4 linked regions of the Homo sapiens genome follow. The protein of the gene in region 3 interacts with the protein of the main gene of each other region in a pairwise test. Each region holds a gene or a part of one and is shown on either strand. Other genes may lie near its edges.

Region 1 (7,027 bases), on a different chromosome or scaffold from region 3:
TTGGGTTTTAACCTAAGAGAAACTGGATGAGTGGCTTTTATATTTTCTGAACAAACTTCATCATATCACTTCCAGATTTCATTATATGTTTACGTGTCAGTTTTTTCCCACTGGATTGCCATCTAATTTTTCATGATAAGGATTTTGTTATATTCACTTCTACATCTCCAGCACCTAGCGCACTACATGGTGCATAAGAGAAGTTTACTAAATCTTATGTGAACAAATGATTGCTGTTTAGCAGTCTGATAGGCATTTTTTTTAAAATTCCCTGGGTGGGGCTAGCAGAAACCTTAGATAAGCTAATTTGTGCATAAAAGAAAGCCAGAAATCCCATTAAAAAATTACCCAAGATGAGCTTTTAGAAAACCAGTTTTCTTCTGGATTGAAATTATAAGGGCTACTTCCATAAATGTGAGGCTATAAGCCCACCTTTGTCATGGGAATAGGGAAGTTTCCTTCAAGATACACAAACTGTAACTCTGATTATTCAGCCAAAATGTATTTCAGAGAGATCAGCACCTATCACACTCCCACAGGGAACAGTCTCAGGGTTAGCATAGACTCTGTTTTGTTTTATTTTTAACCCCGGGAGTCAGTTTCCATATTGAAACTTTTATAGCTTTTAATTTTCCAATAATAAAAACCACAGGTTAATGTTGAAGTGTGGAAACTTAGAACTGTTAAATGAACACAGTAAAAACTCTCTGTAATGCCACTGCCAAAATATAACTATGGAGGAAGAGTTAATTTGGTATGACTGATGACATCTCATAGTTAATAATTCACCCAGATATCATGGTGGAGTTTTCTCTTAGATACAGTATTTCCAAGAAAAGATGTCCTAAATGGTCTATTCAGGGCACTGCCATAATACTCTTCATTTGCCAGCCAACCTGGCTCACATACAATAGGCATTTATTCTGAGATGGGGTCTTTGCCTCATTTCGGGTATGGGTTGATAATTCTTAATAGCTCTCAGATTCTTTGCATTTCAGTGGAATATTGTTCAAGGTGTTAGACTTTATGATTTTTTAAAAAAGAGAAAGGACCTATAATAGAATAATGGCACCAGATGCCCAGCATTCCTTCAAAGACTGTGACATTCATTGGATGCTTTATATATTAAAAGAAAAAAACCCATAGCTTGAGTAGGGATCAAGTCAAATCATTTGATAAAAGTGAATGATGCTCATTGGCACAACTTAAAGAAACTATTTCTGGAATAACATTACCTACCTGGGGAGCGAGTTTAATTCCTTGGGGTTTTAATGTGACAGGATTCATTGGGGTGAGCTCCATCCCAGGTAAAATGTCATAGAGTTTGTCTTCTCTTTTGTCTCCTTTGACCTGGTATCCTCGACCCAGGCCTGTGTATGCCAAATAGCCACGGCCGCCCAGTCCTCTCACTCCCGCAGCCCCTACAGGTACATTCATGTAAATTTCTAGGAACGTAAGAAGGCATTAAACTGAATCAAACCACCAGAAAATCACCCTGAATCTTACTGTAATGGAAAAGTTAGCCCAATTCACGTTGATTATTGCCCTGAAGATGGGTGGGAGACTCTAGGATTCTAATGTAATGAAACTCAACATAAGGTAAGGTTTAACATAGGTGTCTCTCTTTTTTGAAAAACTACCTTCAGAAGAAAACAATGCCATTGATAAATACAATACTATTGATAAGTACACAAACAACTTAAAAATTTTGGGATAGAAAATTTGCAATTTTTGTCTTTAGGTAACCTTGATATTTTATACAGACTAATAAAGACTGGGAATGTATTTATTAGAACATTCCAACATAATGCGACCACTTATTTTGAAATCAGTCTTGCATAGAGACTGTCACTGATCAGTATATCAGAAATAAATTCTGGCTTCCCTAATTATCCCACTTCCAATGACTTATTGTAAAACAAACATTTAGAAAGCATGCTTTTAGGTTCACCATGCTCTCTGATGTTCGGTCAATGTGAGGCTTAAATTTCCATTGAGTTTCATGCATAGATTCCTTTTGATTTTTGTTTTGCCATGTTACTACTTTGATTTTATATTGGTGGCATAGAGATAAAAAATTAAATTGATTACCCTTCATCCATGAATATCATTCATTGATTCCTTTCTTGTTATAAGATAGGCATTTTTTCCCTTATAGTGGAGTTTGTTTTTTTTCGACATCATAACTGGTTGACAATTTGTATTTAATGTATGGATTGGTTAATGAGGTGATTTTATATTCTAAATGCATAATGTTGCAATGATATAATTTATTATCACATAGACAAGTTACCTTAAAGGAAATCTTGATTATTTCATTTGCATTACAATTTTGGGGCAAGTAATTATGAGTATGAAACTTTTAAGGCTGTTGAAGACTAGAGCTCCTAATATGATCAATTTAGTTATACTGAAAAGTAGTAAAACATAGTAAGATAATTGTTTCCACAGTAATCTAGATGTGCCTTTTTGCTTCTAAGTCAAACCCAAGAATAGACTTAAATGCACAGTTTATCGAATTGCCCAGATTCATGTCGTATTTGGAGGATAGAACTGGGATTCAGTTGGCATTAGCCACATCCTAGAAAAACTCATCTGAAGGAGCCAAAAAGACAGGGACAAGCTAGTTTCTTGGAAATAGAATAAAGGCTTTCTTTATCTTCTAGCTTTCTTGAAGAAATGGAGCTTGGAAAACTGCTCAAACATTTAGAATTCTTACAGGATTCAAATGTGAAATATTTATTGTTTTATTAGCAGTCTGATTGAGGGTTTTTTTTCTATTTGTTGTTCAGTTCTCCATGTATTAAAGAAATATAGTAATGTCCTTAATTATTTGGCTTCTAAGAAAGTATAACATATTTCCTGGAGGAGGTCAGATGAGAACATCTCATATGTCTGTTAGATTATATTTATAATAATTTGTGATTTACATATTAAGACAATGCCACTGAGTCACCATCAAATACACACATGCCTTGAAAGGGTTTTGCTATTTGAGGTAATTGGTTTCCACTGGACTATACTAGTCTATTCCAGAAGTGTTGTAATGAGCCACAGATGACTACACAGTGGTGGACAAGTGATATAGAAGAAGCTAACAATTATAGAACTAGGTTTTAGTTTGTGCAAATTTTATGGGCCCATGCAAAGTTTGAATCTGTGCACTAGGCTCATTTGCACAATGTTCTGATGACGTTTTTTCAATAACCAGTTGTAATGTGAAAAAGATTCCTATTAAAGGAAAACTATTGATATAATAGTTGATTTTTAATAAACAATTTTTCAGTGCTTTTCTCCAAGTGGACCCATCCAATGTATCTAAGGCTACTGCAATTTGAGTCATTTGAAATCTTGGGATTACTCTAAAGCAAGATCTGACTGGTGTTACCTCTAACAGAAGGGGCTCGGATAATGGCTCTGTTGCTGAGATGTCCTTTGGTGGCTGGGAAATGAAGACTGGGAATTGCTGCATAGGTCTGGGGGGCATAGAAGACAGGAGCTCCAAGGTAGGTTGTGGTGGGATCATAAACTTGGCCCAAAGAGTAGGTATACTCTCCTTGCAGCATGGTGCCCCTTCCACCTGTGCCTCGGGTATACCTAACATAACTGTCCTTGTCCACTGGTTTTGCTAGGGTGACTTCAATGGGGGAACCATCCAGCACCTGTTGTAGAGAGCAAAGAAATATCAACGCGAGATGATATGAAGATAACCAAGTGTGGCTGAGCCCTAATAACATGACTCCTTCTAAGTGTTAGACTATTTGCTGTAGGTTTATTGATTGTATCTTGTCATTTTATAGGTTTGTTTTGTATGCCAGTTGAACTTTTTCTGAGCCATTTTGTTGGTAAGTTGCATAAGATGCCAACAGGTTTGACAGTGACATATTGGCCAGTGTCCATTGACATATTCATTATAAATTTACAATCTGGTTACAGTCACTGAGACAGAAAGTTATGTAATATTTTTATTAGGTCATATATGTGTTTTAAATTACATATTTATATAATTATATAACTACAAGACAATTTAGGTTTGTTATGGATGGTATAAAATCTCCATTACCTTGCACAATAAGATGAAGGTGAAAGGAAACCAATAAAGAAATCTTATCAATTATTAGCATTTAGCATGGGCAGCCAAATCAGGCCCTTCCAGCTGATAGCCCGCTAACTGTCTTGCTCCTTAGAGCAGCCACACAAGTAAGTTTTCACTGGAGAAGAGAGACATACTGTGGCTCTACCAAAGGAAGAGGAATCTGGGAGGCTGTTGCATTGCCTGCCACAGGTTCTTCCTTGTGAAGCCACCTTTTGATCTGCTGAACAGTTGGGAGCTAATAAACAGGGATGACAGGGGTCAGGAGTAGTTGGGAGTGAGAGTAGTATTGAGGTTCTCAGATCATGCACTGCTTAAAACCTGTCCTTAAGAATTCTGACACAAATTCTGAGACTGCAAACAGCTCCAGATGTCAAAGATAATGGATGTATGTAGATCTACGTGTGCTACTAACTTCTATGTATTGCTTGCCTACACAATAAACAATGATGGCTCTCAAGAAATTCTTGATAGATTGATGTATTTATTATCAAAGGAACAAAGTATTGTCTGAAAGCATTTGTGGCTTTGTTTTTGAATAAGAATGTGAAGATCCTCTGTTTTATATAAAGAACACTTTTATGTAAAGTGTTTCTACAGAAATTCCCATTCACAGCAGCTGAGTGTGCACCCTTACCCTCTGATTTCAACAGTGACTCAGTGGTTCCTGGATTATTGAAGTCTGCTGGACAAAGCTTGTGCTTCATGGTCATCCTGACCATTTTGTTCAGCCTCTTGGTCAATTTGTCCCCAGTATTATGTATTTACCTTACTTTTTAGTAGCAGGAGCCAGTGTCAAATAAGTTAGATGGAATACTCTGAGAGACAGACAGAATCCAGCTGATATTCAACAATCTTATATTGATGTTGATGTAATTAGAAAAAGTAGACCTGGCATACTGAAAATAGGGGAGGAACTTGGGTATAAGATTCTTTATATCTTCAGTCCAGTCTTGAGGAAGATGAGAGACCCAAATAGGTCTCTGCTTATAGGCACTTCCATATCAAGAGATGTTTTGCATGGAATGATTCTTTGCGGCAAATTCAGATATCTTGTAACAAATTTTGTTCTGCCTTCCTTTGTCCCATCCAAAAGCATTTTAAATTCAATATTGTATTTTAGTTATTTGGTTTAGATATTTCCAGAGCTAGGACAATATCTTATTAATCTGTATAGCCCAAGCTTAGTAAAATTTCTTTCACTTCATAGACTTACAAAAAGAATAAATGAATAATCATTCTGAAGCTCAATTCATCATTTTTCTCTCTGAATAGGCTTCCCTTCCTGACTTTCATAACAACCTACCATATTGGAAGCTTATAATGACTTGTCCTTCTTTTTCACCCCATCTCCAATCAGTTCCTGCGTCCTTTGAATTTATCCCTTACTGTTCTGCATATGGCTGTCTCCTACATTCCATTCCTACCTAAGTTCAAGACTTTATTTTGTCCCATTTGGTTGACTATAATAGCTTTATAACTAGTTTCTATGACATGTTTCTCTCACCTGTATTAAAAAGTCAGTTCTTACTAGGCTAATTTTCCTAAATTGTAAATGTGATAATTATCGTAGAAAAAATTTCAAGATCTCACTTCATCTAACAAATTAAATATAAATATCTCTATATATGCTCAAAAACCTTCATAGTTCCTAGGAAAACTTACTTTTGATTTTTCCATACCACATTATAGTCAAATATAATATTAAATATATATTTAACTAAATAATATGTGTAAATAATTACTCTAAAAATATCTAGCTGCAAAAATTGGGAATTTGAATATGTTTCAATTGTAATTATTCCAACGTAATTTTTGGCATTTAATTTGTGATGGCTGTTCCTTCCCAGCAATCATCATGTATACTCAGGAATGTTTCCATATAGAGAAAATCTAACTTACAAATTGTTTTCCAAGTAATAACACTTTTATGATACTAAATGTGATCATCAATGAAGATGAAATAATGCTTTTCTTTATAGACATGTATTTATGCATTAGTTTTTCTTTGCAGTTTTCTTTTTTGTATTTCAGAGTGAATACTTTCTCCACCCCACCCTCCAGTATTCAAACTTTTTGAGTTTGAGTGGGCCCCTGAGGAGCTAATATGCAAGAGGCTCCACAGTGTCTGAAGGGCCTAGGCTAAGAGATCCTCCCTTTGCCATCTGGATCCACTGCCTATGGAATTCACCACCTACCAGCTCCAGCCTGCTCTCTGCTCTGGGAAGCTGTTCTACATGGGGTCCTCTTTAGCCTTCTAGATTGTGATTGCATTTAGCCAATGGGGAACACTGGTAGGAGGTTGGAGAAGAGACAACAGTGAATTCGGGGCATTTATTCTGCTGGACCCGTCTTTGAGAGGTCACCTTGGGCTGACTGTGTCCTTTGACCAAAATCACTGCTTCTTTCTTTTCTCTTTTCTTTCTTTCCTTAATGGTGGGGTCTCACTCTGTTGCCCAGGCTGGAGTGCAAAGGCACAATCATAGATCACTGCAGCCTCAGCCTCCTGGGATCAAGAGATCCTCCCACCTCAGCCCCCGGAGTAGCTGGGACTACTGTAGTAGTCCATGCTACCATGCTCGGCTAATTTTTTGTAGAGATGAGGTCTTGCCATCTTGTCCAGGCTGGTCTTGCACTCCTGGGCTCAAGCAATCCTTCTACCTCAGCCTCCCAAAGTGCTGAGATTACAGGTGCGAGCCACTGCACCCAGCAACTTCTTGCAAAGAGATCTGCTCTACACAATTCTCTCCCCTTTCAGGATTTCTATTAATTCTCCAGCCCCTTGTACCTTTGACTCCAGAATGCTGTGAGCCCCAAATTCTGACACTCTTTTTTGATTTCCCTAGTCCCCACTCGCACTTTTGTAATTAATTCCTTTGCTATTTGTTTTCTTTTGGGACCCTGACCGATGCCAGATCCGATAGGTAACACAGT
Region 2 (6,989 bases), on a different chromosome or scaffold from region 3:
TGCTGGCTCTCCAAAGGATGACTGGCACCATCCCATTTTTTAAAAACAGCTTTAAAAAAAGTCTTTTCTGCTTGCCTTCCTAGAAAAGGGTAATTTTCCTCTTGATTCAATGTTTATTGTAGAAAATAAAGTTAAAGAAAGAAATACAAATCATGTATAATTAAAAAGAGTCTTTTAAAACACATTGAATTCGAGAGTGCTTTATTCCCTGTAATGTGCCATACAAATGCAAAGCACGACTAAGAATCATCTTCGATAGCAGGTGGGTCTTTAATCTACTAAAAAATCTTCCTAGGGTTCATGTAGGTGTCTGCGGATGTTGCTACGTCCACAACTCTAGAAGCCAGCATAAGAAAACAAAAAACAAAAGCCACAGTGCTAAAAGGGAAGTACAGAAGTCCTCGAATATAGTTGCCATCGGAATACCCAGGAGTCCCTCTCAGAAAGACCCTCCTATACCTCTGTGATACCTCCTAATAGCCATTCACGCCAAGTGGGGAACCAGCTGATCCCAAAAGCCCCTAGGGAAGGAGCAGCCCCTTCTTTCCACCGCTAGTTCTCACCATAAACAACTTTTGCCTTCATATAGAAGTGAAATCTGTTTTTCTGTACTCAATAATTACTCAAAATAAATGAAATCCCTTGCTGCATGACAGACCTTCAAATATTTGAAGACAATTAGGACACAGCCACTTCCGTGCCCAAATCCTTCTGCAGGTTGAAACATCAAAGCTGAAGATGTGGAAACTGGTGTCATTAAGTTAGCACCTACCTAGCCGGGATGAAACTTCAATCTGACTCAAACATTTACTGCAACATTGGTGTGTGAAGATACAAAGTCACCTAGTCACTGCCCTTGAAGGACATGGAATTCAGTAAATTCAGTAGATATAATTAATCTTAGTTACCAAATGTGTGCCCACTATGTATTAGAAACTATTTATGGCTGACCTTGTTCCAGATAGAAGGAAAAAAGTTCCATGACTTTTCTTGCCAGAAATACGAGAAAATGCTTTTTTAACATAAGTATTTTTTAAAAGCATCAACATTTTATTAACGTTAGTATCGTTGCAAAGGCATCCTACCAATTAGGTAATTATGTTGAGATCAATTTATCCAAAGATAATTGGATAAGTTGAGATCAATTTATCCAATTTTGCAATTTATCCAACATGGCAGATGAAAGAGTTATAAACCCAAGATGAATGATTCGTTTTTTAAAGAGTTAATAAAAATATCTAATTTCAAAAAAACCCTATTTGTTAGACCGATGTATTTAAAATGTGTCACAGTAAAAATCTCACACAAATAATTGTCCTGTACTTTAGATCTTAAATGTACCTAAACTAAATTTACTGAGTAATTATAATACGCAGAGGAGTAACAAAACTATTTTAAGATTTTTCAGTGGTGTGTATGGATATGTACGCATACCCGTATATATAATCACGAGTTTTAAAGCCTTCTTCCAAGCATATTTCACATAAGATGAACAGTTAGCCAAAAGAATTACATACATTTCAAAACATCTTTGGAGGTAAAAGCCACTTTAAACGTTAGCATCTTTTTCCTTACAATGCAATAGCGAGAAAATGCATGGGAATTCTTGATGAGCAAAAAAAAAAAAAAAGAAAAGTCGTTTTATCAATACCAATGCTCTTTAAATAAATTTCAAACGTAAAAGTTTTAAAATGGCAATCCTAGTTTTAATACTCTTACAGGTTTCTGGAACTGCGTAATATGTTAAAGTATTACAGCGTGGTAGCTTGCATTTTGTTATAAAACCGACTACTGCAACCTAAGCTACAGAGCGCGGTTATATTTTCTCTCTGGCAGCCTAATTTTCCTTAGTGGACTAGATCGTACTGCTAAATACCAAAACTTGAAATGAAACAATACAGGTCAGCATGAAAACCTAAGTTAGAGAAACTCACTCGCCGTAGCAGACGGCAGCCCAGTAGCCAAGCCTGGAGCTCTGCTGCGTTTGTGCATTCTGCTCCGTTTCACGAATCACAGGCAAATCGTTACTCAGAGTAAACTAAAGCCGCATCAAAGCTTCAGGAAGGGGCTGGCAAGGTAGTGTACTTACGGAAAGGCTACCAGGACGGGAGGCGATACAACTTGTCAGGGAGGGTCTCTAAGGTTCCCCGGGTGGTAACAAGCATTTAAAAAGGCGATGTGGATTCAGACGGCCTCCTCCCCACAGCATCCCAGACAAAGCCGGGCTAGGCCCCGGGGCGCTCCTGGTGCACCTGCAATGCGGATCCCTCGCCCTGCGATCCCACCCCGGGGCAGACAGGAGCGCCCCGGGACCGGCCTCTCCTCCCCCTTGGCACTGGGGTGGGCGCGCGCCGCGGCCGGTCCGCACCCTGGACTGGAGCCCGGGCCGGGGAGCCCCCTCCCCAGAAAGGGCCGGCAGACCCCGCGGGGGCGGGCGCGGGGGTCGCCGAGCCTCAGGGACCCTCTTTCCCCGACTCCGCCGTCTCCCGAGTTGCCTTCGCCCGGGGCCACCCCTGCCCCTGGGGGAGCTAACGTGGCTCCCAAGCCCCGGAGGTGGGGCAGGAGGACCCCGTCCCCCGTCTCCCGGCGGGGAGGGTTTTTAAAGTCTTCGCCACGAACTCCCGTCCCTGCCCGGCCCCTCCGCCCCTGCCCGGCCCCTCCGCCCCCGCCGGCGCTGCCAGGTGAGCGGGGCCGGACTCGACACACCCCGGGCCCCGCCTCACCTGCGGGCGCCGCCGTCGCGTTCCTTCAGGCGGCTGCCCTCTTAGGCTCGGTCCTCCCGGCGGGCGGCGGTGGGGGCCCGTGGCCCATGGGCTGGGCGGGGCGCGGCGGGCGGGGCTGCCTGGGCTCGGGCGCTGCCCGGGCCGGGCCGCCGAGGGAGGTCAGTGGGCACCGCCCGCCCGGCGCATCTCGCCCGCTCCCACCCCAGCGCTAGCCGCGGTGCACCCTGGGAGCGGGGCCGGCGGCGAGGCCTGGCCGCGCTGACCCGGCGGGCTAGGCGCCGGCGCGGCGGCGGGCCTGTGTCTGCCGGGCTGGGCGGGGGCGGCGGGCCGATATTCACTTGGCGAGGCGGGGCTACGCCCCCTTCCGCCCGGCTGTGGCGGGGCAGGGGCGAAGGCCGAGGGGAAGGGAGGGTCGGGCCCGCGGGACGCAGGCGCACAGCTCAGGTGCGGCCGCACTGCGGTTGCCCTGGGTAACGCGGCCCGAGGGAGGGGGGGGCGCGGGGAGGAGCGAGGGAGGCGAGCGGGAGCGCGCGCGCCGGGCGCTGGGGTGGGGGATGGCCGGGCCCGACCGGGCCGGGGCTGGGGGGCGGGGGCGGAGGCGGGCGGTGGGGGCGCGGGCCGGGTGGCCGCGCATGCGTGCGGCCCCCGCTCCCCCGGGGCTTCCCCGGCCTCGTGCGTGCGCACGCGCGCTGTCCCCCGGAGGCGTCTGGGTGTGCGGAGCGCGCGCGCGCGCGGCTCGGAGGCGCACCTGTGAGGTGTCCCTGAGGAGAGGGAGGTGGGTGCGCGGCGCCCGCGGCCTGGGGCGCTGACTCCCCTCACTTGGAGTGAGTTCTCGGCGGCCGGGCTGCAGTCTTTCTTTCTTTCCCGGAGGGAGGCGGGGGCCGGGGGCCAGGGAGCGGGCTGGGGGTGGGAAGGAGGTGGAGTGGCTTAAAGAAAAGAAAAACAACCCATCCCGGAGGATGGGCCTCGGGATGGCGGGGAAGGTCAGAGCGGCTCCGCGCAGCCTGGCGGGTCCCGGGCTGAGAAGCCGCCCCTCGGGCCTCGGGCGGTCGGCCGCGGGCCCGCAGTGCGGGGGAGCGGGGCCGGGGGGCGCAGATGGCGGCCGGTGCGAGCGAGGGCTGGGCAGCGGGCAGGGCGAGGCCGGGCGAGGCCCCTCGGGAGCCGGACTCCCGAGCCAGGCTCCATTGTTGTTGGAGCCGAGGGAAGGGGGAGCGCTGCCGCCCTCGTCGCCCGTGGAGCCGCGTCTTGGAGCCCTTCCAGGCGGGTCCCGGGAGAGGCGGTCATGGCCGCGCCAGGGGACCGGGGAGCCGGGCGGCTGCGGAGGAGCCGGCTGCATGGGGTGCTGTGTGTTTTTCAGGGCGCCCTGCGTCCGGCAGAGGAGGCGAGCATCCCGCTCAGGTGATGAGGAACCCCTCGCGCACCCAGCGCAGAAGGCTGCTGCCGCCGGACGCCTCCATTGTTTGACCACAACAAGGGCCGGATTCTCACCCAGGTAAACCGGCTGCCGGCGCTGTCCACTTCCCTCTGACTCCCGCCTCCGCAGGCGTTCTCACCCCTTCCAGGACTCGACTGCAGTTTTCTCACTGTCCCCGGCTTCTCATGAACTCCGTATACCCCCTCCCAGACATTTTCCCGTCCGGATCCATCTCTCCGCCACATCACCTCTCATTTCCCCCAGAACTCAGCTCCTTTGTGAAACCTTTCTTGCCGAACTCTAACAACTAAATCTCCCCGGGAGCCTGCTCCGAACTGAACTGTTCTGGTTGCTAGATTGCTTACGGGCTGTCTTATTGCAACAAAGGAGACCAGATACCGAAAAAAGATTTCTGAGCTATTGCCTTCTTCAAGGAACGTTTTCTGATATTTACAGTTTATTGTTTTCACAGGCTGGAACGGTTTTTAGGCATTTTGGCTTCTTATTTAGAGAGGGCTCCTATTTCCTTCATAGACGCATAGTTTTTTAGAGCAGGAAATTGACCTTGTTCAACCCGCAGGTTAATTAAAAATTTAAAAATTAATTCTAAATTAGCAGAGTAGTACATTTTCTTTGTAAAAACAGCATATCACAGAGATGGCATTTTGTCTTTGACTATCAACCTCTGTCTTCAGGGATGCCGACTATTATGTGTGTGGTGTTTATCCTTCTAGATCTTTTGGAGTACTTTTACGTGTGTGCACTTAACATCATTTTTGACTGCTTTAACAAGGACTGTTGCACCGTAACTTTCAATGTTAGCATGTAATGCTTCAAGTCATTTTTTAACAACTGCTGCACCATGTTCCATAGTTTCAGTATATCATGGTTTAGCCATTTCCCAAATTGATAGCAGTTTAAGTTTTAACTTTAAAACAGCTTTTTTGCTGGTGGTGGTTCTCTGATGAGATGAAATTTCGGTGATAGGAGCACAGATCTACGCTAATTATCGAGATTCGGCATTTATGATGAAGTTCTCTTTTGGTTAAGAAATTGATATGTGGAAGCAGCCACCCCTCCCCTATGGTAGTTCTGACTCTAGCAGTTAGAAGTTGTGTGACCTTGGGGAGGACATTGAATCACACCAAACCTCGGTTTTCTTTTCTGTAAATGGCCTGCTCTGTCTGCTCCATAGAGTTCAGTGATACAGTGCGTATGTGTTGTGGAATGTAAAGTAGTATATATAAAGGTTGGTTTTATTAGCCTTTGTGATCCAAAAATTATTTGCAATATCATTTATATTTTTTGACCAGATGTGTGTGTATCATATCACAGAGCACTACAGATAGTCAACTTTGAATGCTTTTTAATTTGTGACTTTTTAAATTAATTTTTATCAAGTACTGACAATACATTAGTCTTCTTAACAATATTTTGCAAAGCATTTTTTCCTAGGGCTTTCTTTTCTTCCTCTTCATTAAAAAAAAAAAAAAAGAGAGAGAGATAGGGTCTCTTTCTGTTGCCGTGGCTGGAGTGTAGTGGCATGATTCTAGTTCACTGCAGCCTGGGACTCCTGGGCTCAAGTGATCCTTGTGCCTCAGCCTCCCCAGTAGTTAGGAATGACTACAACCATGTGCCACCACACCTGGCTGATTTATTTTATTTTTGTAATGACAGGCTCTTACTATCTTGCCCCAACTGGTCTCAAACTCCTGGCCTAAAGCAGTCCTCCCAAAGTGTTGGGATTACAGGTGTGAGCCACTGTGCCCAGCCCCTAGTGGTTTTACATACCTTAAAAAATAAGGCATATAAATTAGTTGACTGTGAATAAACATATTAGCAAACTGAACACTAGACAATACTCGCACTATAATATTTAAGCTTATTTCCTTAGAGTTGTAAGTTGTACATGTATTTTTCTGTGGCAGCAGCAGATTCAGATTAGCTTTTATGTCCTTCAGGGAAAAGGGATTGTTACTAAATTTGCAGGCTGCATCAGAGTTTTAATATTGAGATTTAATATTTTAATCATTTGAATAATGATTGAATGATGTGATGGGTAACATTTTAAGATGTATGAGATACGATTAGGGGCTTTTTATGTATTTTTCTTTCTTTCAGATATATATGAGTGCCTGTAGTGTGGCCAGCAAAATCAACTTATTTTGTTCTCTTGAAGCTTATGATTTGTGAGGGGGATTGGAATTTAAACACAATCACAACTACACGTATGATCACAAACTGGTATCTGCTGTGAAAGTTAAGAAGCACCTGCTATGAGGGAGTATAAAAAAGGGGAGACCAAATTTTAGAGTGGAGAGAAGGGGCCTAGGAAAGACTTTTCTGTATAAATAAGATTTAAGCTGAGATTTGAAGAGTGCGTAGGTGTTAGTGTGGAGGAAAGTGGGGGATAATTTTCCAGGCAGAGGAACAGCATGTGGGAAGGCCTCAAAGTGGGGAAAAAGCTTTGCCCATTCCAGGAACTGAAAGAATGAATGTGGATAGACTATGGAGGTGAAGGGGAAGAGTGGCTAGGCCAGGGGCCAGATCAAGTAGGGTCATGTAGGGCAGGTTAAAGTGGTTGTATTTTATCCCGAGTGAAATGGGAAACCATGATATGGGTTGGGATTTACGAAGAGGAGTGACATAATCAGATTTGTATCTTTAAACAGCCACTCTAGTCGTTGCATGCAAGATGTGGGGGCGTGTTGGGGGTGGAGAGTAGAAGTGGGGAGACCAGGTTGGCCATCTCAGAGGGCTGCCTGGAAGAGACGTGAGCTTTCCCTTGGAATTCACATTGACCTCACGTTACCAGCTACACTAAGGTCAAATCAATGTTTGATTAAAAAAAA
Region 3 (7,027 bases):
GACAACTGTAAGCAAGGAAAAGATCATCTTTCAAGAATTCATTCTTGGATATTTCTGTGTTTACAGAATAATTCTCTTCCAAGAGCAATAAATATGCAGCTGGACACATGCGGCAAGATCCGTCCTTCTAAATCACTCTTCCTGGAGTTAAAGAAAACATTGTCTGGACATTCTTGTGATAACATCACAAGATGAGGCTCTTGAGCACTTGAATTATTATTCTGAAGCCCAACGTATAAATATCCTTTGTACCGCAGCCATCTCGAGTTGGAGCAGCCATGCTGGCACAAGATTCAATGCTTTCCTGTAATTGTTCAGTTATTGGCCTTGAAAGTTGCTGTCATTTATTTCATCACAATTGAGAGCTGTTTTTCCAACATATATGTTTTTCCAATAAAGGGTGTGATTTAGCTGTGGGACAAGAGGCTCACTGCCCATTCCATGCCCACAAACATAAGAATAATAATTTGGGAATTTGAAATAAGAACGATGAAAGGACAGAGAACTATAAATTGCGGAATTGTAAAAGCTGGAAACAAATCCCCAGATTATCTATGACAACTTCCTCATTCTATGGATGGAAAAACTGAAGCCCACGCATATTTATGAAAAAGAGGGTCCACTGAGCTTTCTCAAATAGCCGTCTGACTTACAGAAAATGAACTCCCAGTCTAACTTGAAAGGCCGTCTGTGTGGGTCAGGACAAGCACCAGCCCTGCTAGGGAAGGGAGACAGTCTACAGCCTCTGTTAATGTCTGCAGAGCTCCATTTATGTTGGCAGCTGGTGAAAGGGGTACACCTGTTTTCCTCTGAGGTAATAATCGTGATCACGGTGCTCATATACCTGATATGTGTTTTCCACTTCCTCTGATTCTACAGGACCAGGACAGAAAAAAACAAAAACAAAAAAAATCTGGCCAGGTGCGGTGGCTCACGCCTGTAATCCCAGCACTTTGGGAGGCTGAGGCGGGTGAAACACGAGGTCAGGAGATTGAGACCATCCTGGCTAACACGGTGAAACCCCATCTCTACTAAAAATACAAAAAAAAAATTATCCGGGTGTGGTGGCGGGCACCTGTAGTCCCAGCTACTTGGGAGGCTGGGGCAGGAGAATGGCGTGAACCAAGAGGTAGAGCTTGCAGTGAGCTGAGATCGTGCCACTGCACTCCAGCCTGGGCGACAAAGCGAGACTCCGTCTAAAAAAATAAAAAAATAAATCTAAGAGAATAAACTCTGAAAATAAGTAGGGCTCCACATTTGCTCAAAGTACGACTGAGGTTATGAATGTCATCATGGTGAATGTCATCATCAGTGATATGATGAATATCATTATCAGTGATACCAGCTCCCAGCAGGAACAGTAGCAGCTGCTATCTGCTCAGTGGGTCCACCTGGGAGGAGGCACTTGGCCCTGTGGTTCAGCTCCTAATTCTACAGAATTCTTTCTGAGAGTGGTGGATCCCTCTTCTACCTTGTTCCTCATCTTCTAAGAGGACACTAGAGTTCTACAAAGAGCAGAGAGCATTTCTACTCCAACCAACAGGGCAGAGCATAAAATGAGCAACTGCTGCTACCTAGGAGCACAGCAGGATGCACTGTGTGAAAGCAGGCCCCTGAAGGAGTTCCACACAGTTACATACTGCACAAGCCCTGAGCATCAGAATAAAAAGTCCATGAGCTAATAAGCAAGCTCAGAGCTTCCCTTCTATTACAACATGTTTAAAAGTATACCTATTGTCCTGTATTAGAAATCTCCTATAACTTGCATTTTTTTTTTTTTTTTGAGACAGAGTCTTGCTGTGTCACCCAGGCTGGAGTGCAGTGGCATGATCTCAGCTCACTGCAGCCTCCACCTCCCGGGTTTCAGTGATTCTCCTGCCTCAGCCTCCTGGGTTGCTGGGATTACGGGCACACGCCACCACACTCAGCTAATTTGTGTGTGTGTGTATGTGTGTGTGTGTATGTGTATTTTTTTTTTTTTAGTAGAGACGGAGTTTCACCATGTTGGCCAGACTGGTCTCAAACTCCTGACCTCAGGTGATCCGCCTGCCTTGGCCTCCTAAAGTGCTAGGATTACAGTCATGAGCCACTTGCATTTTTTACATCCCATAAATACCTGATTGCTCATTCATTCACTGAATAAACATTGGTTGAGCTGGAACTATGTGTCTAAAGTCATGAAAAGTGCAGAAGATACAAAGATGAATAAAATGCAGGCCCCTCCCCTCAAGGGACTTGTTATCTAGTGAGGAAAAGAGATATATACCAAACAGACTACCAAGCCCCTTACTCAGTGCGTGCTGGAGGTGCACAGGTATGATGGGCACGCAGAGGAGGAGCCCCTGAGAGAGCAGGCAGGCATCCCAGAGGAGATGCTATCTGTGCTAGGAACAGGTCAGCCAGGTGATATGGCAGGTCAGGTCAAGGGGTGGAGTAGGCAAAGCCAGAGACATGAGAGACAGAGTAGGGTAGGCAGAGAGCCCAGGAAGATGGAAGACCCAGTCAACAGCCAAGGCAATGAGGGCCTGGATGCCTTGTTCATGGACTTGGGTATGCCTCGCAGGCAGTGGAGAAACGGACAGCCCAGTGAAAGTTTACTGCATGGAAGCCTGCCTTTACTATGCAAGACAGGGGGCAATGACTCCTAAAAAATGTATCAGGGTATCAGAGCCCATTTCTGAATGATTTCTTCAAATAAAAGTAGGACATCTTGGTTCTACAAGGACTTATTAACCTAATTGTGTACAATCCATTTACTCTCTGTGAACTCCACATCCCTCCTGACAGGTTATCAATAATTCCTGCTCCTTAGCTGGTACACAGGAATGCTGAAAGCATCAGGCAACAGCCTGCAGGGAGATGCCCAAACATAAGGCGCAACCCCTCCTTTTTATTTCACTGAATCAAATTCCAAATCACAGTTTCCTGGAGTTCTTATTCCTCACCAAGCTAAATCATTCCATGATGTCATTACCCCTTCGGCCCTGAATAGGGTATTTGAAAAAGCTGGATCTTAGGGTACAGGCTTGACTCCAGGCCAAGGGAACTGCAATGGGTGAGGCAGGTGCCAGGTGCAGCTCGGAGGTCTGGGGATGGCCCAGGGAAGGCTTTGATCTCTGAGTCTCTCGCTAGCCCAGCTTTGACTCAGATGTAAGAATAGGTCGGGTACAGAGGCTCATGCCTGTAGTCCCAGTACTTTGGGAGACCGAGGCAGACATATCGTTTGAGCCCTGTAGTTCAAGACCAGCCTGGGCAACATGGAGAAACCCCATCTCTACAAAAAACACAAAAAATTTGCCGGGTGTGGTGGCATGCATTTGTAGTCCCTACTACTCAGGAGGCTGAGGTGGGAGGATCTTGAGCCCAGGAGGTCGAGGCTGCAGTGAGCCATGATAGCATCACTGCTCTCCAGCCTCAAGGAAACAGCCTCATGGTGACACAGACCATGTCTCCAAAGAAAAAAAAGAAAAAGAAATAAAAAGGATGTAAGAATAAAGGTTCAGAGGGCCAGGGAGCAACAATGCACTCTACTACTCACAATTCATACTAATTTTAAAAGTTCACAAGCTCATCAGTGTGATCTATTTTTAAATTTTCAGATTCAAAAACTGTAAAACAAAGTATGAGTGGGGAAAGTATCAAAGCTGGAGGAAAATAAAGGGAAAAGGAAACAGAAAGAGTAAAGAGAAGGGGAGAAGGGTGGTGACAGGACAAAAAAAGGAAGGAGGAGGGTAAATGAAATGAGGCAGAAGAGAGGCAAGGACCCTGCATGCCAGGAAGCTTTTTTTTTTTTTTTTTTTTTTTTCTTGAGACAGTGTCACTCTATCACCCAGGCTGGAGTGCACTGGCCCTATCTTGGCTCACTTCAGCCTCCACATCCTAGGTTCAAGCAATTCTCCTGTCTCAGCCTCCCAAGTAGCTGGTATTACAGGCGTGCATCACCGCACCCAGCTAATTTTTTTTTTTTTTTTAACCAGAAAGATTTCGATCAAAGGAGGGGCTGCCATGACAGACAGCCTCCCTTGGCTTGCTGGCTCAGGCCTTGGAGTTCCAGGAGCCTGGCAGATCCCTACAGGTAAAGCCTGAAGAGGTCAGATTAGCAAAAGAAGTCTATTTAAGCATCCTTTTCAATGCACCTTTTATTGACTACCTACTTTGATCTGACCCCAATGGGCCCATTTTCTCCTCCCCCTTTGAAACCCCAAGTGCTTCTCCCTATCAACCCTGCTGCAGGAGGCTCCTCTAACATAGCCATTTCCTAAGGAGAAATCTGTGAACGTCCCCAAGCCCTTCCTGCATGCAGCCCTTCAACACATGCAAAAGCAGCTTCGGTAAGTCAGTCCCTGTATCTTTAGATGTCACCGGGGATCCGCAAGGGATATTCAATTACTTATCAATAATCAACCAGAGCTTTCCAGAGACAATTAGGAAAACTGGTCTATGTGGGCTCTTTTAAAAAATACATTATAAAAGTGCAGTGTTTTCATGCAATTGCCCCGTCTTCTACCAACCGTAAGCATTGGGAAGGGTGCCCACTACCTGTCGCTGAGACCTCACCAGCAGGGAACACACACAGGACCAGGGGCTTTGTGAATACTTGTGGAATGGATGAACAAATGAATTGACGGGTGGATGAATACAAACATGTCAGAGTACAAACATACAGGCAAAAATCAAGCATGAAAAATTAGAAACATATTATGTGAACAATCCACTCTGCATAGCAAACCCAACATGTAATGTGGTTTGGCATATGACATCATGAGCTTCCATCGCTGCCCTCGTCCCTCCTTCCAGATAAGCTGCTGCTTCCGCAGCGGATATAACTCTTCTTATTGTGTTTGGACTCCAATCCCATGTGAACACACAGCTGCACAGTCCAGGATGCAGCCTGGCCAGGTCAAGAAGCAAAAAGCCAGCTGGGAGTCGTGCCCACTTTGGGAAGAACGCACAGATCCCCAACACGGGCTCCAGGTGTCAGCAGAAGGCCCTGATGTTCTACAGACATGTGATGCCTATAATCAAAGATCCTCCATTCAAAGGCACGGGACTCTCACACCTGGAAATGTGCTCAGAGAATACCCCGCACCATTTTATTTTCCTACGGATGGGAGTATCTACACACAAAAACCGCTCACCCCCAACACTCTTCATTTGTCTAGCTAAACGGGTTGTTTTAAACAGAAATTCTGATAAAACGGAGAGGGCCATCATGTCAAGGAAAGTTGCTGTTTTATAAACTAGAATAATGGATCAAGCCTTGGAGTCCCTAAAGAGAGAGGATCTCTTGAGCCCAAGAGTTCGAGGCTGCAGTGAGCTGTAGTGCTGCCACTATACTCCAGCCTGGACCACAGTGTAAGACCCGGTCTCTAAAAAAAAAAAAAAATTTATATCAGTTGGATATGGTGATGTGTGCCTACAGTCCTAGCTACCTGGGAGACTGAGGCAGGAGGACTGCTTGAGCCCAGGGGTTTGAGGCTTTAGTGAGCTATGATGGCACCTGTGAAAAGCTACTGCACTCCAGCCTGAGCAACAGAATGAGACCCTGGGAAAAAAAAAAGAAAAGAAGGAAAGAAAGAAAGAAAGAGAAAAAAGAAAGAAAGAAAAAAAGTATCTAGCATCCACTTGAAATCTATTTTTAAATTGTTGGATTTTAAACAATCTTAGTTTGTAAGGTATAAAATTGACTATGCTTACCACTGTATAATATATTTACAGATTAATTTAATAAGCCTTTACTAAATGCATGTACAGACAGGTGTCAGAGGTGTATTATAGTTTACATAAACTGGTAACTTCCAACTTAAAAAAAATAAATAAACATCTTCATCTCTGGTGGTTCTGCATGAGGCAATGTTTGAATAAGGTAAACTGCTGTCTTCTGAATTATCTTTTGAATATTGAATACTAAAAATAAAGGGAAAACAATAAATATCAAATTTCTGATCTGAAGTCCATGACTACAAGAGGAGTTACACTTGTTTTGATGTCGTTCAGCCTTTTGAACCCAGCCGACAAGAATGTGTTGAGTAACCACTGTTTTCCATGTGCTACGTGAGGCACTGGGAAGCTGAGATAAAACACACAGTCTATGAAGGAGTTCCAGTCTAGTTCTAGCTCCAAATAATTTAAATCACCTTTAAGATCCCATCTTGTCATTTAATCTCAAAACACATCAATTGCAGCCATGCAGGACAACCATAGCTGCACACGCTAGAATGGCGGGTGGCCTCGGGTCCGTCAATCACACCAGTGTGGGGACCAAGGGAGACTCCATCCTGCATGCTATGGCTCTACCATGCCTTCCCTGAGTGAGTTACGAACACTTCTACACCTACAAAACGAAAACCACCCACTCTTCTTCATGGCAGGGGTCTCCTCTCACCTCCCAAGTGCGGCTCACTGTTCACTCTCCCAGCTATCTGAGGTGCCTATGACCCCCACCCCCATGCTGGCCTTTCTCTTGGCATCCAGCAGCTTCCATGAATGACTGGCCACCTCCTTCTCACTGCAGTCCTGCCACTCTGTGGGGTTTCTCTGGCGCACTGCAACAGGACTCTGTCCCGAGAGGCTTGCACAGTTCCTTCTGCTTCCTTCATTGACTGCCTGCTTCTTAGTGACTCCAAAAGTTGTATTAACCCAAGCAGACAGGTCTATTTCCTTGTTGACTGACAAGCTCCATATTTACATACTGCAAGGACATTCTGGCATTAATTCTGTTCACCCATGAAAACAGGGCAGCTGCTTCTGCCACAGACATCCCACATCTCACTCAAGACCATATGACGGGAGGATCTTGAAGCCGCAGACAGAATCAGGCTAGTAAAGGCGTGGGCCACCGAAGGCTGAGGATGAGTGTGAAGTCTAAGTTCACACCAGGCAAGACACCACCCACGAGCACTGGGATGGACCTGGGAGACCAGACGCTGCTCCAGACCCCTCGTGACATCCCCATGCAGAGAGCATGTTTTACAGCAAGAGGAAAGCCAAGACTCCCAGGAGCAAAGTAGTGATCAAATCTTAAAAA
Region 4 (7,027 bases), on a different chromosome or scaffold from region 3:
ATAGAAGTGCAGTTAAACGAAAAATCAAAGTTAGAATGCATTTACAGTGTATCGTCATTTTAAAGATTTAGGCCACATTTAGGCCTTGGTTTTTCTTTCTTTCACCAGATACCGAATGTCTATGCCAGCTCTGGAGAGACCAAGACCTGCCACTGGGGAGTGTCTACCCTCAAGAGGACAACAGCAAACTCACCAGAAAGAACTTCAGGCTTCACAGGCCAACTGGTTTCTAGGGGCGTGCCCTGCTGCTGTACCAAAAGCAACTTCCACAGCACACACATGAATGGACGTGGCTGTGTGTCAGTAAAACTTTATTTACAAACATAGGCAGTGGGCCACACTTTACCAGCCACTGATCTAATGCATCAACAAAAACAACAAACCAAACCAAAATGAATCCCATTTCACTTAGGAATTCTTTCATTGGAAGCAATTCTGAGGACAATAACCTGTACATGTGTGAATTCTTTCAAACCTACCTATTTTGGGATGTGACGTTGGCAACGCAGCTTCTGGAAACGGTGCGATCTGGCAGCTGTCCTGATAGCCGGGGTAGTGAGGCTCAGGGTGGCTGGCCCTGCATGGGGGCTGCACGCTGGCCTCTTGGACTGTTGGGGAGAAAAAGGACAGGGAGGCTCGGGATGGTTGTCCGCACAGCAGACTCTAAATATCACGCTGTATGGCTGCGCCATTCAGTACACATAGTAGCTTATGGCCACACGTGGCTACTGAGCCCCTGAAATGTGGTGATCCTGAATCGTTGACATAATAGGATTGGGGCTATATCAGGTGAAATAAAATAGATTATAAAAATCAGGCCGGGCGCGGTGGCTCACGCCTGTAATCCCAGCACTTTGGGAGGCCAAGATGGGCGCATCACGAGGTCAGGAGATAGAGACCATCCTGGCTAACATGGTGAAACGCTGTCTCTACTAAAAATACCAAAAAAAAATTAGCCGGGCATGGTGGCAGGCGCTGTAGTCCCAGCTACTTGGGAGGCTGAGGCAGGAGAACGGTGTGAACCCGGGAGGCGGAGCTTGCAATGAGCCGAGATCATGCCACTGCCCTCCAGCCTGGGGGATGGAGCGAGACTCCACCTCAAAAAAAAAAAAAAATCAGTTCTAACTCTATTTTCCTCAGTGTGGCTTCTAGAATATTCTCCAGCACACAACCAGCTAGGCTGCATTTCTGTTGCACAACTGCAGTCAAAAGCAGGAGCCGGCAGACAGAGAGTATTTTCAGCTTTGCCAGTTCTGGCATCTGTCACAAGTAACCCACTGCCACACGCCAACCCCATCCACACTGCACCGCCCACCTGACGTGGCTCACACGCTGTCCCCACCAACAAACGCCTGGTTCAAGGCCCCTCTCGAGGCACCCAGCAGCCTATGCAGCCCAATGTGGCGTCGGGGATGTGATGTCACAGACAGGGATATGCTGAGGACGCGTCAGGCAGGCACTGGAGCAGCTCACCTGTGGCCCCTGCGAAGACGTCGCCCTGGGCCGGACTCTCTGATATGACAGCAGTGGCCTCTACCGTGGACGCTCGGTCAAAGGTCAGTGCCCCCGAGGTCGTGATCTGTCCCGAGGGGGTCACGGTGACTGGAAAGGCAGAAGCACATTTCACGCGGCCAGGCAGTGGCGCCCACGGCACACAGGTCCCGTGCCACCCACGGGCGCCAATCCTTGTGGGGGCCTGGGCTGAAGGGCGGGCAGTGGTAACTGTACCCTCCCATGTGAAGGACACGGGGGAAATCCCAGACCTTGGAGAAGACCTCACAGGAGAAAACCAGGATGGCCAGGATGGCAACTTGCCACTACCAATTGTTCGCTGTTTAAACTGTGAACCATGGAAATGTGCTGCCCAGCCAGAAAACAAACATAAAATAAAACTTTCAGTGATTTTTAAGTACTTCGTGGTTCGAATTAAGAAAAAATCTTTAATCCAAGCTGAAGGTAAAAAGCAGCCGTGTCCCACAGCAAGGCTGCCCTGTGTCCCACAGCAAGGCTGCCTCTCCAGCTCAAAAAAAAATCCTGGCGACAGATCTTGAGACTCTGCTGCTGTGGGACTCTTCCTGCACCCACCACCCAGGGCCTCAGGAAGGAGCTGACAGGGTGTTTTAGAAAGACCTTACTCTATAAATGCAAAAACCCAGACTTAGTTAACAAAAGCCTATTACAAAGACATTTTCTCCTATTGCTACCTCTCCCCATTTAAATCCTGTCTGTACAAAAAAATAAAAACATTAGCTGGGCATGGTGGCACGTGCCTGTGGTCCCAGCTACTTGGGAGGCTGAGGTGAGAGCAGTGCCTGAGCCTGGGAGGCCGAGGCTGCAGCGAGCCGGGATCCTGACGCCGCCCTCCAGCCCGGCCACAGAGAAAGACCCACAGAGCTCTCCGCAGCCCTCGTCCAGCGCACTGAGAATCCCTCACCAAGGACGCCCTTGTCAGGAAACGTCCCCTGAGCGTGTGCTGGGCACTCAGCCATGCTCACTCATACTAGGAAACAGCCCAGGACAAGGCCAACAGTGTCCGGGTCCCAGGGAAGCAAGACCGAGCTGGGCACTGGGACACCCCTTCCCACCCGGGGGACGCACTGCAAAGGAGTGTGATGGCGTTGGAATCCCTCTGGCCACGCAATGTGCTTTAGAAGTGAGAATCCCGCAGTGGCCGTGGGAGTGGTGACGAGAGAAGGCAATGCACTCAGGTCCCCTCAGTAAACTAGAGCTGTGTTTTCTCAAACTCACAGGTGGTAGCCGCGGTGGCTGGAAGCAATGTGATGTTCTTGGGGGAGTCCTTCTTCACGGGAGTTGTGGGCAGTTCATTCTCCTTCTTGCGCCTTTTGTAAGGCACAAAAAGCCTGACTGGGCCACTCTGGGGGAGAAAGGAGAGAGGCCACCACCTTCATGTGTGCAAAAGCTATGCTGCGCTTGCAACTCCTCCTTAAGTGGGGGCACCGCGGGGTGTGTGAGTCACATGGTGAGACCACATTAAGATGGTAAGCGCCCCTAAAGATCCCACCTCTTTTTCTTTTTTGAGACGGAGTTTCACTCTAGCTGCCCACGCTGGAGTGCAGTGGCGCCATCTTGGCTTACTGCAACCTCCGCCTCCCAGGTTCAAGTGATTCTGCGTTAGTCTCCTGAGTAGCTGGGATTACAGGCATGTGTCACCACACCCGGCTAATTTTCTTTCTTTCTTTTTTTTTTTTTTTTTGAGACAGAGTCTCGCTCTGTTGCCCAGGCTGGAGTGCAGTGGCACAATCTGGGCTCACTGCAAGCTCTGCCTCCCGGGTTCATGCCATTCTCCTGCCTCAACCTCCCGAGTAGCTGGGACTACAGGCGCCCGCCACCAAGCCTGGCTAGTGTTTTGTATTTTTAGTAGAGACGGGGTTTCACCATGGTAGCCAGGATGGTCTCGTTCTCCTGACCTCGTGATCTGCCCACCTCGGCCTCCCAAAGTGCTAGGATTACAGGCGTGAGCCACCACGCCCGGCCGACTTTTTTTTTTAAATAATTTATATCTCTTCATTGACATTCTCCAGTGAGGAGACAGTGTCTTCAGACCTTCCATGCAATCTCTAGCTGTGGTTTCCTTCAGTCCTCTGAACATACTGAGGATAGCCATTTTAAAGCTTTTTCCTGTTAACCCCAACATCCGGACCTCTCCAGGCAATTTCTGTTGCCTGCTTTCTTCCTGTGTATGGTCCAAGGCTCCTTGCATGTCTTATCATCTTTTGTTAAGAATCAGACACCGCAGGTGATACATTGTAGCAACAGTGGAAAGCAGTTCTCCTTTCTCTGGGATCCTTGCTGCTGTCAGCTTGTTTATTACTCAGGTACGGAGCTGGACTATCTTACTGAGCCTGTTCTCCTGGGGCGGCCTCGGCTGCTGCTCCTCTGAGGGCTCGGCCCTGGGTGGGGTGCAATCACCTTTGGTGGTGGGAGTTTTGGCTGTCGCTCTTCCTGATCTCTGTTAAGCTGTTGGTGTAGTCAAGTGTCAGAATCAACTAACTGCCAGCTGCCTGCTCCATTACTTTCAACAATGCCCTGGGGCACACACTGCTCCACTGTCTGAGCCAATTAAATTAGGGCTTCTTTACTGAGAGGTTCGATCTTGAAGGTCGGTTTCCCAGATGGGTTCTTCGCTGTGGCTTTCCTCGCCTCTCTGGTAAACCTGCTGACCTACAGTTTAGTTTCTTGCTCTAATGGAACTGCTGGCCTCCTCTTAACTGCTTACCATCAAAATGTCCATTCTTTTCCAGGGCACTTTTAGGCTTGAACATCCCCATACTGTTTCAAATCAAGTCAGTTCCTTTGGGAGGGGCTTTGGAGCTCTCTGTTCTTACGGCCTCTCTCTCTTTTGGGCTGAATGTCTGAGCCCCTACTATAGACCTAGAGGCAGGAACAGTGCCTGAGTCTATCAGAGGGAATTCTGTTGCATTAGCCGGGTTCTGTGTGGGGGGCAGCAGCCTCTCACTGCATGGACACCCCACCCTATGGGCAATGTGGGTTGATGGAAATTGGGGCTCCGTATGCTTGGCCTCCCATGCCTGGGTAAAGCCTCTGCCCTCTGAGTGGGGATGACTGAAGAGATTTTCAGTCACACTTCCCAGGAATTTACTGCAACTTAGAGCTGAAGGGGTTGAGAAATGCTGGTGGCCTGCCCCTCCCAGTGAGATACCATATCCCTTGACCGGGAACTGCAAGGAGTGGGAACCGTTTTCTTGGTCACAACCACCCACAATGGAGCCTCCACCATAGGGAGCTGGGGGCAGAAAGGGAGGGAAGGAGCTGGTCGTAGCTCAAACGTCACAATCCTCACTGCCCTTTCCAAGACTTACTACATTTTCTTGGATGTTTATTTGCTGTACTCCCCTAGGACAATTTCTGGAGACCTTAAGGGGTTATTTTTTCACAATTTTCACTAGTTATTTCTCTGGAGAGTTGGTCCACTGAGCTCATCACACCACCACTCCCCAAGCGGAAGCCAAAAGTTCTAAAATTTGATGAAGTCCAATCCAAGAAATCCTAGTTCTAACTCCAGGTCAGGAAGATTTTCCAATGTGTTTTCTCCTAAAAATGTTATAGTTTCACCTTTCACTTTAGATCGATGACCCATTTTGAATTCATTTTTGTACCAAGTGTGAAGTTTAGGTCATCCTTTGTCTCTGCTGATGAACGTCCTGTCACTCCAAGGCCATTTGCTGGAGTCTACTATGACACTCTAGTCTGACCCAGATCGTGGGGTCTCTCCCTCTGCCAGTGCCACACTATCTTGATTACTGTCACGAGCCCGTAAGTCTTAAGACCCCGCAATGTGATTCCACCCATTTTAAACTTTTATTTCAAAACTGTTTTGGCTTTTTTGTTTCAAAACTGTTTTGGCTTTTTTATTTCCTTTACCTTTCTATGCAAATTTTAGAATCAGCTTGTCTGCATCTAAAAAGAATCCTGCTGGGATTTTGATAGTCATTGTGTTAAACCTACGAATCAACTTGGGAAAAAGTCGCATCTTTACTGAGTCTTCTAATCCACGGGCGCAGGACGTCTTTTGACGTATTTCAATCTTCCCTGGTCTCTCTCTTCAGCATTTTCTTTAGTATCTTCCACGTACAAACCCTGTACATGATTTCCTAGACTGACATCTAAGTACTTCAGTGTTGGAGCCCCTGCAAATGATCTACCTGCAGGCTCAACTGCCAATGGGACCGACGTCTCCTCCCGGCTCCTTTACTCCTGCAGCGTCTCTAAGAGTCTCACCGACTGGCTTTTCCCAATCAACTTCAAAATTATTTTACGTTCACAAAATTGTTTTTTCCACTAGAATCACATGAAATCTATATATCAACTACACAATTCTAGGATGTTTAGTGTTTCACCCCAAGAACACGGTAGGTCTCTCCATGCTCTTTTTTTTTTTTTTTGAGGTGCAGTGGCTCACGCCTGTAATCTCAACACTTTGGGAGGCTGAGGCGGGCGGATCACATGTGGTCAGGAGTTTGAGACCAGCCTGACCAACATGGCAAAACCCCATCTCTACTAAAAATACAAAAATTAGCTGGGCATTGTGGCACATGCCTGTAATCCCAGCTACGCGGGAAGCTGAGGCAGGAGAAGTGCTTGAATCCAGGAGGCGGAGGTTGCAGTGAGCCGAGACCGCGCCACTGCACCCCAGTGTGGGCGACAGAATGAGACTTCGTCTCAGAAAAAAAAAAAGAAAGAAAAATTATTTTGGGTCTTTGTGAAGCAGTTAAGAATTTAGAATAAGGAAATACGTCAAAAAGGCGTTAAAAGCTCTACACATGAATAAGTTTACAGTAGCATTTTTCTGACATGTTACAAAATGAGGAATATAAAATGGCATGCATACAAGGAAAAGCGTGTATGTTTAGTTTTAGAGTTAAGGCGGTGACATTATAACCGCTTTTCATTATTTAAGGTTTCCACAAATGTTCTTTGAGCAACATCTTGGGGGCCAACCACGTGTTCCCCATCGAGACATCAGGATTCACTGTGACGTATCAGGGAGGAGGGAACAGAGCAACCCAGGAGAAGTGAGGACAGTGTCTCTCTCCAAGGCAGAGGGCAGGAGGGAAACAGCCGAGAGGCCAAGGGCTGTGGGACCCACTCAGCCGCCCCCAGCCCCACCAAGTCATCCTGTTCCAGACACGCTGGCCACTTACTAAGGTCATGTCGTCGCAGCAGGCAGCACAGGTGCAAGAGGCAGCGTGAGGGTTTAAGATCCCATCCTGAGATGTGAAAAGAACCACCATGCATTAGCAAGTCAGCCCCTAAATGTCAATCATTCAATAATAGAAGATTTCAACCACTTTTACCACTTACCTACCATTCATAAATATAAAAATTCTTTTTTTTTTTTTTTTTTTTGAGACAGAGTCTTGTTGGGTTGCCCAGGCTGGAGTGCAGTGGCACGTTCTCGGCTCAGTGCAACCTCTGCCTCCCCGGCGCAAGCAATTCTCATGCCTCGGCCTCCCAAGAAGCTGGGATTATAGGTTTGCACCACCAC

Evidence for each region.
Region 1: the proteins of FHL2 (region 3) and A1CF interact in binary tests that used the Homo sapiens proteins (3 or more experiments, as listed by UniProt).
Region 2: the proteins of FHL2 (region 3) and CCDC92 interact in binary tests that used the Homo sapiens proteins (3 or more experiments, as listed by UniProt).
Region 4: the proteins of FHL2 (region 3) and DEAF1 interact in binary tests that used the Homo sapiens proteins (3 or more experiments, as listed by UniProt).

The regions. Positions count from the first base shown.
Region 1 is NC_000010.11:50,812,618-50,819,644, forward strand, and holds part of A1CF (APOBEC1 complementation factor), read right to left. Parts: intron 3,663-7,027; coding exon 3,389-3,662; intron 1,446-3,388; coding exon of another isoform or gene 1,422-1,445; coding exon 1,240-1,421; intron 1-1,239. UniProt on the Homo sapiens protein: Essential component of the apolipoprotein B mRNA editing enzyme complex which is responsible for the postranscriptional editing of a CAA codon for Gln to a UAA codon for stop in APOB mRNA.
Region 2 is NC_000012.12:123,969,806-123,976,794, forward strand, and holds the start of CCDC92 (coiled-coil domain-containing protein 92), read right to left. Parts: upstream 3,027-6,989; 5' UTR 2,724-3,026; exon of another isoform or gene 1,935-2,723; intron 1,615-1,934; exon of another isoform or gene 1-1,614.
Region 3 is NC_000002.12:105,389,032-105,396,058, forward strand, and holds part of FHL2 (four and a half LIM domains protein 2), read right to left. Parts: intron 1,197-7,027; exon of another isoform or gene 1,076-1,196; intron 1-1,075. UniProt on the Homo sapiens protein: May function as a molecular transmitter linking various signaling pathways to transcriptional regulation. Negatively regulates the transcriptional repressor E4F1 and may function in cell growth.
Region 4 is NC_000011.10:678,215-685,241, forward strand, and holds part of DEAF1 (deformed epidermal autoregulatory factor 1 homolog), read right to left. Parts: intron 6,750-7,027; coding exon 6,684-6,749; intron 2,876-6,683; coding exon 2,749-2,875; intron 1,603-2,748; coding exon 1,474-1,602; intron 609-1,473; coding exon 480-608; intron 1-479. UniProt on the Homo sapiens protein: Transcription factor that binds to sequence with multiple copies of 5'-TTC[CG]G-3' present in its own promoter and that of the HNRPA2B1 gene. Down-regulates transcription of these genes.